Linked DNA regions of Homo sapiens: region 1 is linked to region 2. The links come from fine-mapping of genetic effects on gene expression. A gene starts in region 2. The other region holds a variant in brackets. All regions are shown on one strand. Distances are from middle to middle.

Region 1 (8,322 bases), 89 kb before region 2:
ATTCCTGAGCTCAAGTGATCCACCCACCCTGGCCTCCCAAAGTACTGGGATTACAGGTGTGAGCCACCACACCCAGCAGAACATCATAGAAGTGAATAGAATTGTTACGGGCGGGTCTTTGTTCTTAGAGCTCCCAAGATGGGGCGGGCCGCTCCCAAAATGGTAGCAAGCCTTTTGTTCTCTGACCTGGGGTTCTTGGCCTCACGGATTCCAAGGAATGGAACCTTGGGCCATGAGGTGAGTGTTATAGCTCTGTTAGAAGCCGTGGGTCATGGAAGAGAACCGTGGAACCAGCAACTAGTGTTCAGCTCGATTAGGACAAATCCTGGGCCCTTAGTCATGCAGGAACAATGGCGTGCCTTTAGCCTGATAGGGAGTGGCAGTGGGCGCCTCGCTGGATCAGGAGTGCAGTGAACACCCTGCCGGATCTGGAGGGGTGGAAGTCAGCGGCGGGTCTGCGACGGTGGCAAACAGCAGTGGTGGACTGCGAGCGAAAGCTCAGCTCGAGCCATAACAAACACGGACCAGAAGAGTGTGCAGTTGCAAGATTTAATGGAGTGAAAACAGAGCTCCCATATAATGGGAAGGGACCCAAAGGGGGTTGCCGCTCCCTGCCGGGATGCCTGGGTTTATATCCCGATCATTGTCCCTCCCCCTGTGCTCTCAGGCGATATATGATTTGACTATTTATTTACCTCCTGCTTTTGGCCTAATTTGTATTTTAGTGAGCACTCTTTACTTCCTGATTGGTTGGGTGCGAGCTGAGTTACCAGCCCTGTGTTTAAACGTGGGTGTGGTCACCTTCCCCAGGTAGGCTTAGGAATTCTTAGTCGGCCTAGGAAATCCAGCTAGTCCTGTCTCTCAGAATGATACTACTTGCACCCTTTTTAACCTGGCTTCTTTAACTAGGCCTAATGTTCATAAGGTGCCTCTGTGTGGCTGCCTGTATCAGAGTTTGTTCGTTTTGTTGCTTGGTGTAGTATTCCATTGAACAAATATCCCACAATATGTTCATTATCTAGTTGATGGACATGTGGGTGATTTCCAGTTTGGGGCTAGTGTAAATACAGCCGTTATGAATGTTCTCGTATATGAATTTGGTGAACATGTACACTCATTTCTCTTGGGTATATTCTGAGAAGTGGGCATGCATGATCCATATTAGTGTATACTGCCCGGCAGTTCTCCAGAGTGATTGTACCAAGGGAGCTTGGATGTTAGCCTGAGGAAGACTGGGAGTGATATGATGAAACTTACTTTTAACTCTGGCAGCCACTGTGTTGAATGTACTGAATTGGGATGAGATTCTAGACAGAGAGACCTGTAAGAAATCGCAGACTAGGTGCAACCAGAGTGTCTCCTGGTTGGCTTCTCAGGGTTTCTCTGGACTTACCCTCTTTTGGGCAAGGGAAGGAGGTATTAAGATGGCTGCCACAGTTTCTCATTTACCACAGCCACATCCCAAAGAGAAAAAGAGAGCCTTTCCATTCCAGCCTTTCAAGCAAAGGGCCTGAGATTTGCTCCGATTGGAAATCCGTCACGTGCTCATCCCTGAACCAATGACTGTTGCAGGGGGAATGGAATGAATGATATCAATTGTCTTAAGTCAACTCCAGAGCCTGAAGTTAGAGATGGGGCAGCTTCCTTCCTAGGGACACGGGCTGTCTGCAGGAGGAGTGAGTATCTGTTAGGAAGGAGGAAAGGGATAGATACACAGCCCCCAGGGGTGATGAGGGATGGCGAACCCCTGAGCTCAGGCAATGGGCACAGAGGAAGAGAATGGTTTTAAGAGACAATAAGAAGGTAGAATTTTCTTGATTGTTCGGATGTGGTGGGGAGGGAGATAATGGAGTCCCAGATGACCGCCAAACCTCTGACTTGGTGTTAACAGAATGGTGGTGCCCTTGTCTAAAGGAGAGAGCACTTGAGAAGGAGCAGGTTTGAGGAAGATGAGCTCCATTTGTTTGTTTGTTTTGGACAGTTGGCAGAGCTAGCTGAGATTTTATTTTGAAAAAAAAAAAAAAAAAAGCAACAATTGAATTGTTTTGTAGCTGGAAGCATGGCCAATGGGGGTGCCCCAGGCAGTAAACTCCCCCAGCAGGTGGGCTGAGGGCTAGGGCTGAGCCTCAGGTGAGTCTCCTGTTCCTGTGCTCCACTGCACAGCGGCTTCCTCCACGGGCCCTGGGGCAGCCGCAGGAGGGGCAGGCTGGTAGGGGCTGCCATGGCCATTCACTTGGGCAGGACATCAGAGGACTTGGACACTAGCTTGCCATCTCGCGTTTCCACCTTCTTCACAACCATGGACCTGGAGAAGCTGGCGCGGCTGAAGGAGCTGGAGCCTCCACCAGTGCCAAAGCTGGAGCCCAGGCTGTAGCTAAGGCCTGTTGTAGAGGGCTTGTGAGGTGCCCGTGGGTCGAGCTCAGCCCACCTGAGTAGCCACTGGTGGTCTTCAGATGGACACTCATGTTCTGTATCCCAGACCCCAGCTAGCTCTCCTCGCCCTCCAGCAGCTTCCTGTAGGTGGCGATCTTGATGTCCAGGGCCAGCTTGACGTTCATCAGCTCCTGGTGCTCCATGGCACAGCTGCTGCACCATGTCTTGCTCGGCCCGCTGCAGGGCGGCCTCCAGCTCGACAGCTTCGTGTTGGCATCCTTAACAGCCAGCTCCCCATACTGCTCAGCATCTGCGATGGCAGCCTCCAGGGAAACCCTCTGGCCTTTGAGGCCCTCAGTCTGAGCCTGGAGCCGGCTGATGTTCCTATTAATCTCAGAGATCTCCATCTTTGCATAACGCAGGTCATTCCTATGCTTCCCAGGCAGTGTCTGCAGCTCCTCATACTTGATCTGATGCATGCCCTCAGCCTCAGCCCAGCTGCCATTGGCGATCTCCTTGTACTGCGCCTTGACCTCAGGGATGATGCTGTCCATGTCCAGGGAGCGGCTGCTGTCCATGGACAGCACCACAGATGTGTCCGAGATCTGGGACTGCAGCTCCCAGATTTCCTCTTCATATAGCTGCCTGAGGAAGTTGATCTCGTCAGTCAGCCCTTCCAGAAGAGACTCCAGCTCTACCTTGTTCATGTTAGCTTCAGCCACGTTACCTTCTTGATGAGGACAAATTCATTCTCCATCTCTGTACGCTTATTGATCTCATCCTCATACTTGTTCTTGGAGTCCTCCACCAGCCTCTGCATGTTGCCAAGCTTCAGCTTCTCCTGGCCCAGAGTGTCCAGCTACCGCCGAAGTTTGTTGATGTGGCTCTCGAATATGCTGTCCATGTCGCTCTGAGCTGTCTTCTGCTGCTGCAGGAGGCTCCACTTGGTCTCCAGCATCTTGTTCTGCTGCTCCAGGGACCGCACCTTCTCGATGAAGGAGGCAAACTTGTTGTAGAGGGTCTTGATCTGCTCCTTCTCCTGGGCGCACACAGCCTGGATGTTGGGGTTCACCTCCAGCTTAAGGGGGCTCAGCAGGTTCTGGCTGACCATGATGGCTGTGATGCCCCCCATACCACTGGCCCCACCATAGCCTCCACCCAGAGCCATGCGGGTGCCCAGGCCACCCCGGAAGCTGCTGCTGCCGCCCACTTGAGAGAAGCTCCAGGAGCTGATATGGGCACCAGGCCCGCTTGTGTAGGAGCGGCTGCTTAAGGCCTAGGGGCCAGAGGTGGACACCCTGTAGGACTTCTGGGTCACCCTGATGGACATGGTGGAGGCAGTAGTGGAGGGGTGGGTGGGCTGAACCAGGCAGAGATTCGAGAAAGCAGAGAAGCTTCTTCTAGGTCATGAGCTTCGTTTTGAACATGTTCAATCAGAGGGATCTAGGGAAGATCAAGGTGGGATCTAGGGAAGATCAAGGTGGTATCTAGTAGGCAACTGGATACATGGGATTGAACCAAGGGGATGAATCCAGGCTGGAGATTGACATTATGGAATCAAGGGAATGAGTGAACCATCCAGAGAGAGGGTATAGAAAGAGGACTCCTAGAAGATGGTGGAGAAGGCATTTCCTGAGAGGTAGGAGGAAAACCAGGAGTTTGCCACGATGACAACCAAGGGTAAGGAGAGTTTCCACCAGGGAGAAGTAGTCCACATGTCAGAGGCTGCTGGGGGCGGGGGGGGAGTCAAGAAAGGTGGGCACTGAATGGTGTCCCATGAGTGCAGAGTGGCACCTGCTTATGTGTAGTTCAGGGGCACGCATGGCCGGCCACTACCAGGCTTTCTTCAGCCTCCTCAAAGGCCCACACCAGTGTGACTGGGCTGGCTGGACTGCCTCTTCGCACCCCTGAGGCCTGGTTCATGGCCTCTCAGCCTGTGGAGAGGAGACAGGGAGAGGAAGAGGGAGCTTTAGCCTCAGTCCAGGGACGGTGTCTGAGGCCTTTCTGAGAAGTTTGTGGGGACCTCAGCTGCAGAATAGAGGGCAGCCTGCAGCCAGAGTAGAGCCAACCAAGTTCCTCCTGACACCAAAAACACTGACATTTGGACACAGTTTTCCCCTGGAGCTTCCCCCTGTGGAAATTCCCGGTTGTAAGCCATATTGACTTTAATCTCAAGTGTCAAAAAGGTTGCCCAGGAGTCTGGGAGCCAACAGCTGAAAGCACGTTTGTAAGGATGTCAGCGCAAACAAAATAGGATACAGAACATTTTTTGAGATCTGTGCCAGTGGTGGACTTTTCTGGGAAACATGACAAAAGCTGACAGTCTTAGGCAAAAAGGCGCTGATTCTT[G/A]TCATTATTAATTTATGTCCTTACTGAAAGATCAAGTTAGGGAAAGGTAAAGGGGAAGAATAGCACATGTGTGATTTCTTTGCCAGGCACAAGGGCGCTGCAGGAGGCTCCCCCTAGAGTTTAATGGGCAGCTTTATGTATTTATATGCTTTAACTGGAGCTAAAGAGGTCTGTGCCACACAATGGGCAGTTTCTAGTTGGATTTTAAAAGAAATAACTTTGATCATTTCAAAAGCAATGAAGCCTGATGCAGTGGAGAGAAAAGAAGGCAGTAATTTATGGCTACCATTAAGGACACAAAGACAAAGGTGGAGAGAACGTTTCACTAACTGAAGATTTACAAATGTGTAAAAACCACCCTTATGACCAGAAATAGCTGAGTGTCTCTCTCAGCACCAAACAAAAGGGAGTGGGAGGGAGGCGCAGACAGAAAGAGGGACGCAACCTGCCTGCCTTCACTGAAAGGGTCAAAAGAAAAACAACTACAGAAAAGTTATTTTCTCAGATAGCTCCATCAAGCAGCTGCACTAGCCACAGCCCAAAGAGGCAGGCCCCCGTGGGCATGTTCGGGGGCTGGGGTGGCAGACAGTGGGTACTGAGGGTGCAGAGGCTGGGAGCTCTGGGCTGTGGATAGGCCCCAAGAAGACATAAGAGTTTTTGTGCATGAGCTAGGTGGGGATTTTTTGGTGACATCTATTTTTTTTCTGATCTCCAAAGGAATGGTGTGTGTGTGTGTGCGCGCGTGCGTGTGCCTGCATATATACATATGTGTATGTATATAATCGCAGGAGAAAATTGAATAAATACGGAGAAGCTCAGTGAAGAACATTACTATCCCTAAGTGTGATGTTTGGTTGCGTCCGGAAATTGTTACTATATTTGTTCCTGGAGTGATGGTGGGTGTATTGGGCTCCAGCCATCCGTGTCAAGTGTGATATGGGAAGACCCTGTGTACCTGTTCCCTTGCAAGGACTGTCTTTCATGGAAGGCTAGGTGCTAGGCCCTGCCTGTGTTTGAAGCTAGCCAGACCTGATGTTTATGAGTTCAGGTGATCGTAAATGCCACCTGTACTCCGGCAAAGTCGGGGCTGCTGTCTGTTGTCTCTGGTGGCTCACCTTTGACCTCTAGCCCCCTTCCCCTTAGGCTGCCCTGAGATATACATAAGTAGCTTGCAGGGATTCTAGGCCCAGTGTGCCCCACAGTGGGACAAGTGGACCAGTGCCCTCAGGGCTGTGGGATGGAGGATCCCAGAGGGCCTGGGGTGGGCAGTGTGGAGAAGGGTGCAGAGGGTGTGCTGGGGTGGGCAGAGAAGCCAGGGTCACCTTCTCCATTCAAACAGCTGTTTTCCCGAATTGGAAGTCACCCCCAATTCCTTCCACTCCCACCTCCCACCTCCCACGTGGAAAGCCCCAAGATGGCTTTGGGGTTTGGGGACTATACGGAACACTTTCTGGGCGCCCTGACCCCGAATATTTCAATCTAGAAGGGCTGTTTGTCCTCACATGAGGGCCTGGGTCGAGTTGTAACACACTGGAACAGGCGCGGCACCGAGGGCTCCGAGCGTTGGAGCGGAGCGGGGATGCGGGGGGCAGCGGGCTGGGTGCCAGGGCTGCGCGGGGCGCGAGGCACGGTGCTGCCGCCCCGCCAGGCTGACAGCCGCGCTCGGGCCACCGCGGCCGCGCCCCCTCCACCCGAGGCCGGGGAGGGGACGGGAGGAGGCCGGGCGGGGCGGCACTGCTCCCGCCTGCGCTTCCCGCCCCGGCCCGGGAGGGACCGTGTGAAAATGAGGCCGGGGCTCGGGGGGCGGGCGGGGCCGGGCCGGGGGTGGCAGCGGCAGCGGGCAGGGCGTCCGCGCACACCTCCCCGCGCCGCCGCCGCCACCGCCCGCACTCCGCCGCCTCTGCCCGCAACCGCTGAGCCATCCATGGGGGTCGCGGGCCGCAACCGTCCCGGGGCGGCCTGGGCGGTGCTGCTGCTGCTGCTGCTGCTGCCGCCACTGCTGCTGCTGGCGGGGGCCGTCCCGCCGGGTCGGGGCCGTGCCGCGGGGCCGCAGGAGGGTGAGTGTCCGGCCGCGGGGGCGCACCTGGCACAGCAGGCAGGGCCAGGAAGAGTGTTTAGGTCCCCGGCGGAGTCCAGAGCCGGGCGCGCGGGGCTCGGGGCTGGCGGCTGCAGCTCCGCGGGGGCCTCTGCTCCCCCCGGGACCTCACCCGCCGGCCGGGCCAAGGCGCCACGACCGCTGGGGCCCTGAGTCCTTCGGCCCGGCCTCGGACCCGGAGCTGCTGACGGTTCCCGCCCCGGTCCGGATGCCTCCAGAGCGCCTGCTAGTCAGACCGTCGCCGGCGAGCAGGCAGGAGGGTGCGGACCCTGGCCTTGGGGTCCCGCGCCTCAGCGTAGGCGGGGAAACTGAGGGCCGGGCCGGGCACATCCGCGAGGCGGTGGCAGCTTTGCCGTTTCTTTCTTTGGGGGCCGGCAAGTTCTGCTGATGGCTTCGGGGTGGGCTCCAGAGACTTTTCTGTCAGCGGAACAGCGCCTGTTCCGATCTGGGAATTACCCTGAAGCAGCAACAAGCCTAGGTTTTCAGCAGAGAACTTTGGTTTCCAGAGAGGACTCTGGACGTGCTGTGCTTACTGGACTTGCAATACTTTCAAAATGCTTTTGTTTTTAATTAATATCCTGGAGTAGTGTCAACCCAGGAAATACTTCTGCCAAGGCGGGTTTCCAGGTTGAGAGGATGGGCAGGGGTGGGAGTGCAGGGGGCCGGCCATGGGGACACCATCCCCGCTTCGCAGCATCTGAGAGCCCTGGATGACATCTGCTCCGATCCCGGGGCAGACTTCCCATAAATACTCTAAACCAGCGGGGTGCAATCTTTTGGCTTACCTGGGCCACAGTGGAAGAAGAAGAATTGGGCCACACATAAAATATACCAACACAAACGACAGCTGATGAGCAAAAAAAAAAAATAAATAAATAAATAAAAAAAAAATCTCATAATGTTTTAAGAAAGTTTATGAATTTGCATTGGGCCGCATTCAAAACTGTCCTGGGCTGCACGTAGCCCACGGGCTGTGTTGGACAAGCTTGCTCTGAGCTCCGAGAAAGCTGACAGACAGCTGCTTGGTGTTCAGAGCTTGTCTGTCCGTTTGGTCCTTTCCTCCTTTAGCGGGCATGTAGGTACTATTGCCTACTCACATGCCAGGTACTGCGCTGGCTTGGCATAAGGGACACAGACGCAGTCTGTTGTCAAGACATTGTCTAGTGGAGAGAGAGGAAGGAAAACAGTGACAACCCTGCCTGATGTGTGCATGCAAAGCCATACATATGCGAGCACTTGGTGAGGGCAGCTACAATGGGGGTCATGGCAGGCTTCCTGGAGGAGGTGGATTTGAGCTAAGTCCTGAAGGCCAGTAGGTGATGGTGGGGGTAATTTCACGTAGAGTGTCCGGGCTGTTCCTGGAAACAGGGACCCAGAAACAGTTTGGTTTATCCCAGGGATCCCAAGCAGCTGTAGCTTGTGAGGAGTGAAGCGGGGTGGGCTGGTGAGGATGATGCCAGACAGGGCCGAGGCCAGATCACACATGGCCTGGGAGCCTGTACCAG
Region 2 (8,322 bases):
AAGTTTTTAAATAATCCTGAATGACTTTTCTCTTTGGGCAGTGTAGATCTGTGCGAAAACTGGTCAGACGGAACACTATGAGTGTGAGCGCATGCACATGTTTGCACACCTGGGAGTCTACACATGTTCCACAGAGCACTTCACCTCTCTGCTGTCACTGGCCCCCAGCCCCTGTGGCTTGCCCAGCATGCACACCATCACATCTGAGCAACATGCTTAGTTAACTGGGGGGAAGGAGGTAGAGCCCTCAGTGCTCCTGAGGTAGACAGAAGTTACCCATCAGTGTGAGCCACGCTGCAGGCATTGTCCCCTTTGGCTGGGGCTGACATAAAGAGATAAGGAGCAGGTGGGTTAGGCCTATGCTTTGCTGTATTCTGAGAGACTTGCCATCTTCAGAGTTCTTGTTTCTATACTGCAGAGTTTCCCACTAGGCTCAGAAGGGCCACTCTTTTTCTGGGTTCTCTACCTATGTTGGAGAGGGGAAGGAAAGAGGAACAGGACATATTTATTGAGAGCCCACTTTGTGCCTTTATATATTATTTCACTCAAATGAGACAGAACCCTGCAAGATGGATAAACTGAGGCTCAGAGAGCTTCAGTAACTTGGCCAAGGTCCCATAGCAAGCAAGGGGTGGAACCAGATTCAAAGCTAAGCCTAGACTCCTCACTTCCCCACTTCCACCAGACACACGTCCTTCAGATACTGGTGTTTGTTTTCTTTCCATTATTTCTCCTCTTTTGCTGTCTGAGTTGAGGTCAAAGCCTGTTCTCATCCCGGGAAATGAAACCAAATCACTGGTGACTGTAATGGATCCAAAAGACCCAGGCAACTTTGGAAAACACCAGCAGGGCTGCCATCAGCCCTGTTTCTTGAGGTCATGGTGATGTTGGCAATCACTCTGAAGGAAGAGGACAGAAATATCTCTTATCTTTGCTTTAACTGCCAAAGCAGACACAGTTTTTAGAGCTGGGTGCCAAGTCAGGGGTACCATGTAGCCAGAGATCCTGGCACACATCTGGATAGCTGTTCGAAGAATCTTCCTGCCAAAGGGGGTTGGGGTAGTGGTGAGGACATCTGAGGAGGAAAGGGATCCTACAGCTATAAGGATGGGGTGGTGCATGATGAGGGTCCTAGGAGTGGCCATTCTGACTTCAGGGTATGGCCAAGGGCAATATGCATGGGTAGGGAGGGAATGGGGAGGAAAATTTCTTGGCAGTCTCCCCTTTATCCTCTGCTCTTCTCCTCTACTTTTTAGGCCTCCAAGCCTCAGCACTCATCCTGTTTCTCATTCTTAAAGGCCTCTCTGTTAGCTGAAGACCCAAAAGAGGGTTGCTAGGAGAATAGGTTGTAAGCCTAGAGTCACAAATAGCCATCAGACAGGAAGGGTCTGCCTACAGGGGCATCAGCTCAGAGGAAAGCAGAGCTGAAACACAGTGATAATGTCATTTGAGTCTTTGGATCCAGCCATGCCTGAAGCCCTGCACTTTTAAATTAAGGGGACCAAAAATTTGCATTTTCACATAAGAAATTTTCAACTGGGTATCTGTCACTTATAAGAAGAATAACGTGAATAGCATTCTAACACTGAAACAGTACTGGATTTTCTAGTATGATTTTCAAGTACAGGTCTTCTATAACAGCCAAGGGAGGATGCAGAGAACTTTAGGATAGAGCCATTGCACATGGAAAGTCCAGAATCTGGAGACACTGAGGAGAGGAAGAGAGCTGGCCAGCCCCTGCCTCAGCAGGCCTCTGCTCTAGGGATAGGGTAAGATACTCAAGTCTGGCTTCATGTCTGAAGCTCTGTAGGGAAGCCTGGAGAAAGGATAGGCCAGCCCCAATTCGAGGGTTCTGCAACCTACAGTTTTTCCTGAAGTTGTTCCAGGTAATGATGGTTGCTACCTTCTGCTGAGCCTATGCTACATGACCAATGTATTACACTGTCTATCGTTTTATTTCTCACAGCAGCCCTGAGAAGTAGAGATATTGGCACAATTTTCTAGATGAAGAACTGAAAGCTCACAATGGTGCAGTAACTAACTAGTCACATAGCTAGTAAGCAGCAGAGCAGGGATTCAAATCTAGTGTATTAGACTCCAAAACCTGTGTTTTTAACAACCATATTGTATGTTACTTCCTCCAAGATGGGTCAATGAGGCAGGGGACGTTGATTGGCTATATGGAGAATTAATAATAATCTTTTCTGTTGGTACAGCCCTAGAGAGTTTACAAAGCACAATTGTATATGCAGTCTCACTACATCCATTTTACAGATATGGAAACTGAGGCTCAGAGGTAGGAAGTGATTTACTCAAAGTCATTTGGGCAAACAGGATAAACCACCCAGAGATAACTCTCCTTAAATTAAGCAGGCAGTCTGTAGTCTGCGAATACTCATAATGTGTGGGGGGAGGAAGGAGCTGGCCTCACCACACTGAACCTTGAGGGCAGTGATGGTATCAGTCTGTCCAAGGAAGGTCTCAGACAGGTGAGGGGACCAACAGGTATTGCAGCCACAGACCCAACTGCAGAACACAAATCCCACTACACCAAAGGGCTCTGAATTCACAAAAAGATTCCCAGTTCCAGTCGGGCACCATTTATTTTTCAGCAACACTTGATATGGGCAAATTCCAGTTCAACTAGAGAGATTCAGCTTCCTGGTGTTCCCAGGGGGATCTAGCTCTGAAAAGAGCCCCTTTCTTCTGTCAGGACATCCTCAGCAAAAAAGGCTGCAGGTCTGAGCTGAGCAGCCTGGAGAGTGGGGATTCCAACTCCCCCCGAGAGTGTCTACCTGCCTGGCTTCCTCCCTGAGGAAAGTCACTGTCCCAGCCCAAGCCCTAGGGGCCCTCACTGTTGGACCTGCCCTGATGCTTTGCCAAACTCAGAGGCACCTCTCCTAGACGGACAAGGCAAAGCTGACTTTCACTGTTCCCTGGGTGATCTGCACCTGGAGGAGTGATCAGGCAGGGATCCAGGTGATGGGACAGAAGGGGCCAGGGCAGCCACTGTTGTTCACTGCTGGAAGTGTGCCAGGGGACTGGAAGGTGAACAGCAATCCCACCTGTCTCCTAGAGACTCTGTCCTCCGTGTGTAGGGGAAAGTAGGGGATGGGCACACAGGGAGGAATCCAGCCCTGGGGCTTCCTTGAAGCCAAGTGAGCAGCCTTCTGTATTTGTTTTCCCACAAACAGTCTTTGAAACTGGGGCAAGTGTTGAAGGCAGAACAGAGTAAAAGAAGCAGCTTCATGAGGCCAAACCCAGTCTCTCCAGGTCTAGGTAGTCCAGCACAGGTTCTGGGAGTAAATGCCAGCTTTACCACTTGATTTCTTTGGTACGACCTTAACTTTTTGCCATCCTTTCACTAGTATTTGAGAACCCTCTGCATATTAGGGCATCAATGCTAAGCAAAAAATGGGTTCAGTCACCTTCCTGGAGGTTCCAATCAGTGGAGGAGACAAATATTAATCCAACAACCAGTACCCCCCTACCCCTACCCCCACAGAAAGTGTCAAATGCCCAAGAGATAGATAGTATATAATTAGAGAGACTTCACTCTCTCTGGAAGGTCAGAGAAGGCTTTCCTAAAGAAATGATAATGGAGCTGAGGTCTGGAAGAAGCATAGGAGTTTCCTGAAGAGGGTAGGAGGGGGCACTGCACACAGAGGGAACAGGACAGTCAAAGGCAGGCCATTTGGCAACAGGTGACTGGAAGGAACTGGAAGAAGGCCCATGAGGCTGAAGTACAGAGTGAATATGCAGGGTCTAGGCAGACCATGCAAGAATGTGGGTTTCTCCTAAGAGCAATAGGAAGCCTTTTGAGGTGCTCTTAGCAGGGAAGTGAGATGATCACACTTATCGTTTGAGAAGATTACTCTGGCAGCACAGTGAACAACGTATTGGAATGGAACCAAGGAGCATTCAGGAGGCCAGACAGAAGGTATCAGGTATTTGCCTGTAAAATGGGGGTGATGAGAATACTATCTTACAAGCTGTTGCCAGGATCCAATGAGATACTGCATTTTAAGTGTCTAGTCTAGTACCTGGCACATAGTAAAGGCTCAGTAAGCGTCGATATTGTTACTTTTATCATTGGTTCTTTGCAGAGTGCACATATTTCTTATCCAGGTCTGCTCCTGCGTGATGGGGTGGAGGGAGTAGTTGTGGTTTCCAGAGTGAAAACGTGATTTGTGTCAAATCACAATGTCGAGACCAGAATCCAGGATGCCTGAAGGCCCGATTAGAATGGCTTAAAAGTATGGATTATTCAGGAAGAAAAACGGGTTCCAATCGCTCCTACTAAGGACGCTGGAGGGATGGTGAACGATCCTTTAGATGGTAAGCCCTAGCACTTATTGAGAAAAACAGGTGCTTCTTTGGTCGGAGAGCAGGTGTAGGGCTCGCAGCCGCGTGCGCTCCCGCGGAGGCGGGGGACCCTCGCCACTCCCCCGCCCCACGCCCACCCGCGGGCTTCCGACTGCACCTGCTCCCCCGGCTCGGAAACGCGGGCCGGGTGCCGGGCTGCAGGCAGAGGGTGCCCGGGGGAGGAGGTCCCGAAAGCCTCCTCCACACGCCTGCACCGGCTGCCCCCTCCCCAGTCACGTGGCCCGGTGGGTGGGGACCGACCTGAAGTTGGAGAAATCCGGAGCGCTCCCAACCTCGGAGGGAGTCGCCAGTCCTCCGGGCCCGGGCGGTGGACCCTGGAGCCCCGGCTGGCGGCGTGGAGGTGCGTTTCTGAGAAGCCGAGCAGCGGCGCGGGCGGCGGGACTCGAGGCATGGCCCGGCTGTCGGTGATCCCCGGGTCGGCCACGGCGTGGACAGGTGAGCAGGTACCCGCGGCCAGCGGCAGAGATGGCCGGGGCTGCCAGGGCATCGGGCCCCAGAGCCCACGCCAGTCCAGGGGATGCGGGGCCCCCACGCAGGAGGGGGCGGTTGGGTGAAAAGGCCGCGGTGGATTCTCGGACTGCCGGGTCAGTCCCCACCAGCGCCGCCGCCTCCTCGCCGGCTTTGCCACCGGGTGAGCAGGGGACGCGGGACGCGGGACGCGGGACGCGAGGGAGCCGCGCGGGGCGTGGACTCTGTGCCGGCCCCGCCCCCCGCGCGCGCACTGGCTGCTCCCCGCGACGTCACGCTCGGCTATAAAAGGCGCGGCTCGGGGCCCTTGCGGCGCTGGAGGAGCTCGAGGCTGAGGCTGCCGGGGGGCTGTGGGCTACCGGGCCGCCGGCGCCTCAGCGATGTTTTACTCAGGGCTCCTCACTGAGGGCGGCCGCAAGGAGACCGACATGCGGGAGGCGGCGTCACTGCGACAGCAGCGCCGGATGAAGCAGGCGGTGCAGTTCATCCACAAGGACTCCGCCGACCTGCTGCCCCTGGACGGCCTCAAGAAGCTGGGCTCGTCCAAGGACATGGTGAGCCCCCGCCGCCGTTCTCGCCCCGGCCCCGGCGGCTTCGCGCCCGCCGTTTTCCGAGGCCCGGCCGTTGCGGCTTTCACTGAGTCACGGCCCGGCCCGCCGCTGCCCTTGGCTCGCGGTCGCTGCGTCGCGGATTCCTCCCCTTCCAGTACCCCTGCTGCGGTTTCGGTGGGGATTCCGTCGTAGCTTTTCTAGCTTGCGCTCCCCTCGGCTGTGCCTCCTCCCTGGATGTCTCTTCTCCAGTAGAAAGAAGAGGTCCTGCCCTGCCCTCTTGCCCTCGGGTCTTCTTTCTTTTTCCTTATTCTTAATACCGAATTTTGTTCACGGGGCTTGTGCCTCCTATGCTGTGTGGCTGTTCCTATGACCCAGACAGAGGTGATTCCTAATGGCTTTCCGTGAGGGGGAAAGAAGTGGAAAGAGGGTTTTTTGACAGTTGCCAGATCCAGAGGACTTCTGTTGAATCCATTGTCCCCCTATGCAAAACCCACTTCTCTAGTTTTGGTCCTAACTTTGACCTTCCATCCTGAGTGGGGAGAGAGAAAAGGGGCCAAATGTGAAGGTTTCCTGAACCCCCAACATCTCTTCATCATTCTCCTCTTCCAGCCCCGCCCCCAAGGAGTGGGTAGAGGGAGGAAGCCAGGCTGCTGCATCTCACCGACCAGCTAATGTGTGCATCTGGAGCTGGGGTGGGTGCAGTCTTTTTTTCTAGCACAGTTGTTCCTGGCATTAAGTAGAAGCACCTCAGGACAGGGGGCCTGGGGTCAAAGATGGTACTGTCCTCTTTCTATAGAATGGGATGGATGGCTAAGGGTTACCAATATAAAGAACTGTATTTGTCATCCCTCAGCCACTGTAGTGGTCCTGGGCCAAGTTTATGTTTAACTTTGTAGTTTTATCTGGAGTTTTCTTGTAGTTTGATTGTTTTCTTGAATTTCACAATCGCTTTATTCATTTGGGTGGTAATATGTGAAACACTAATTAAATGTCTTTTAACAAATGAAATAGGTGCTCTGCATAATTTTTCTAGTATTTTTTATTTTAAGCTTTTGAAATATTTAATTTTGGATGTGGTTGTCGGCCCTAGTTCACTGAAATTGCCATTTCTGGCCCCAGGAGGGCAGAGCTTCTGCATCCATTTCCTTTTTTTTTTTTTTTTTTTTTTAATTTAACAGCTCTAATGATACACAGGTACATTATATTATACACAGTATAATATAATATACAAAAATTTTTCTCCTCCCTGCCATTAGTTACTTCTGTGCAGAGTTTGTCTACTTCAGTTATCTTGCTCTGTTTTTTTTACAAGTTGTGTTTTTTTGTTTTGTTTTGCTTTTTGCACAACCCACAGGATAGTTTATCTGATTTATGCTAACCCAGAGTGATAAGTGATTGAAATGTGCTCCTGCAAAAGAGATAACTCTCTTTTCCCTTCTTTCACTTTAAAGCAATCTCGATTCATTTAACAAATCAGGTTCGAGAAGTATTCTTTCCTTCAGGCCAAATAATCCTATCCTAGTTCCTAGAATGCTCAGCAATCAATAAAGAAGGAAGTATTATATTAAGAGAAGAATTAAAATACAGAGTTTTTAAATGCTGGATTTGGTTGTCCCTCGTTGTCGAGGAGTTTCCTAGCCCTGAGAGCTACCTGAACTTCCTTCTGCCTAGGATTTCTTATACTACTTCATGCTGTGTAAGAATTCCATCCGCTTTTCTGACTCTAGTCTGTCTCAGTTGAGTCACAAAGGGCTGATAGCATACAGCACAGGCAGCAGGCTGCAAAGAGGAAGGAGCCTCAAGAAGCAGGATATTGCCTTGAGTATGACACATACACATGACAGTTGACTGTAAGGCTCTGAATCATGGTTCACGCTTTCTGTGCCCCACCGTCATGGAGTTGATTTCCCTCTCTCACTGTTTTCACACCTATAATGTACAAGTGATTGCACAGAACAGCCAGGTTACAGAAACCAAGGCAGACCGAGGTAGGGCTAGGAGAGCCGCAAGCGCTGGGGTGAGGCAGCATGCTTAAACTCTCTTGGAACTGTTGTTGCAGCCTTAGTACAATCTTAGAAGTGACCTTAGAAGTACATTATTATTCTTTTACTTTATAAATACATGTGGGATAGACCAGTGTTGACTCAATTTTCTCTCACTGCAAGGGAAATTTGGAGGATGTTAAAATTAATTGAATAGTTCTTACTTGGAGTAGTTTATAGTATAATCTCGATAGAAGGAGTCCAAGAAAAGGGAGAGGATAGCATCAGAGGGAGATAAGGAAGAGAGAGGAGAAATTAGTTGTTATTGACTTTTGGGTTTGTGAAGATTGTAGGTTGTTTTTCCTCATACCAGCAACCTATATTTGAATATACCGCTGGGATTTCTGAATTATCTACCTCTTACTATGCTGTTTCTGTAATGTTCACTGCTTGATACCAGCCTGCCAGCTCTTTTAGGACTGGCAGAAGGCAACCATAGGAAATCAAAGGGGGTCATGTTCTCTTGGCCCCAGGAAAGTGCCTTTGCCTATTCCTGTGTATCTGGAGTTGGCTGATACAAAGTCTTCTGTGGAAATTATATTTTTGTCTGCCCCTTTTGCTTTTATCCTTTTATCTTGTATTGTTCATTCTGTATTAGATTAAGAACTAAAACCAGAGATATGAGTGAGTAATATTATATTTGATTTTTTTTTTAAGAGACGGGTTCTCACTCTATTGCCCAGGCTGGAATGCAGCTGCAGTCACATCTTACTGCAGCCTCGACCTCGCAGGCTCAAGAGATCCTCCCACCTCAACCTCCTGAGTAGCTAGGATTACAGGTGCACACCACAACACCAATCTAACTTTTGTATTTTTTGTAGAGATGGGATTTTGCCATATTGCCCAGGCTGGTCTTGAACTCCTGGTCTCAAGCG

Which allele goes with the higher level. Positions count from the first base shown, and alleles are read on the strand shown. Sizes are in standard deviations (SD) of each study's normalised expression.
With allele A in place of G in region 1, the expression in prostate of the gene that starts at base 5,082 in region 2 is higher (moderate effect, 0.65 SD a copy in GTEx).

What was found. PIP is the estimated chance that this variant, and not a neighbour inherited with it, causes the effect.
Region 1: its variant is fine-mapped to the expression of NRIP3-DT in prostate (GTEx, PIP above 0.99).

What each region holds. Positions count from the first base shown.
Region 1 is chr11:9,089,853-9,098,174 of GRCh38, reverse strand. SCUBE2 (signal peptide, CUB domain and EGF like domain containing 2) reads left to right here and starts at 6,576. Exons shown (of 23, transcript NM_001367977.2): 1 at 6,576-6,779. The coding sequence starts at 6,647. It overlaps MIR5691 (microRNA 5691), which reads left to right and starts at 7,796; the gene lies at 7,796-7,863. It also overlaps the pseudogene KRT8P41. RefSeq lists enhancers at 1,860-2,359, 2,360-2,861 and a silencer at 2,563-2,768. The variant G/A (reference allele first, on the strand shown) is at 4,723.
Region 2 is chr11:9,000,848-9,009,169 of GRCh38, reverse strand. It overlaps NRIP3-DT (NRIP3 divergent transcript), which reads right to left and starts at 5,082. Exons shown (of 3, transcript NR_183663.1): 1 at 4,627-5,082. NRIP3 (nuclear receptor interacting protein 3) reads left to right here and starts at 5,169. Exons shown (of 7, transcript NM_020645.3): 1 at 5,169-5,408. The coding sequence starts at 5,235. RefSeq lists an enhancer at 5,073-5,992.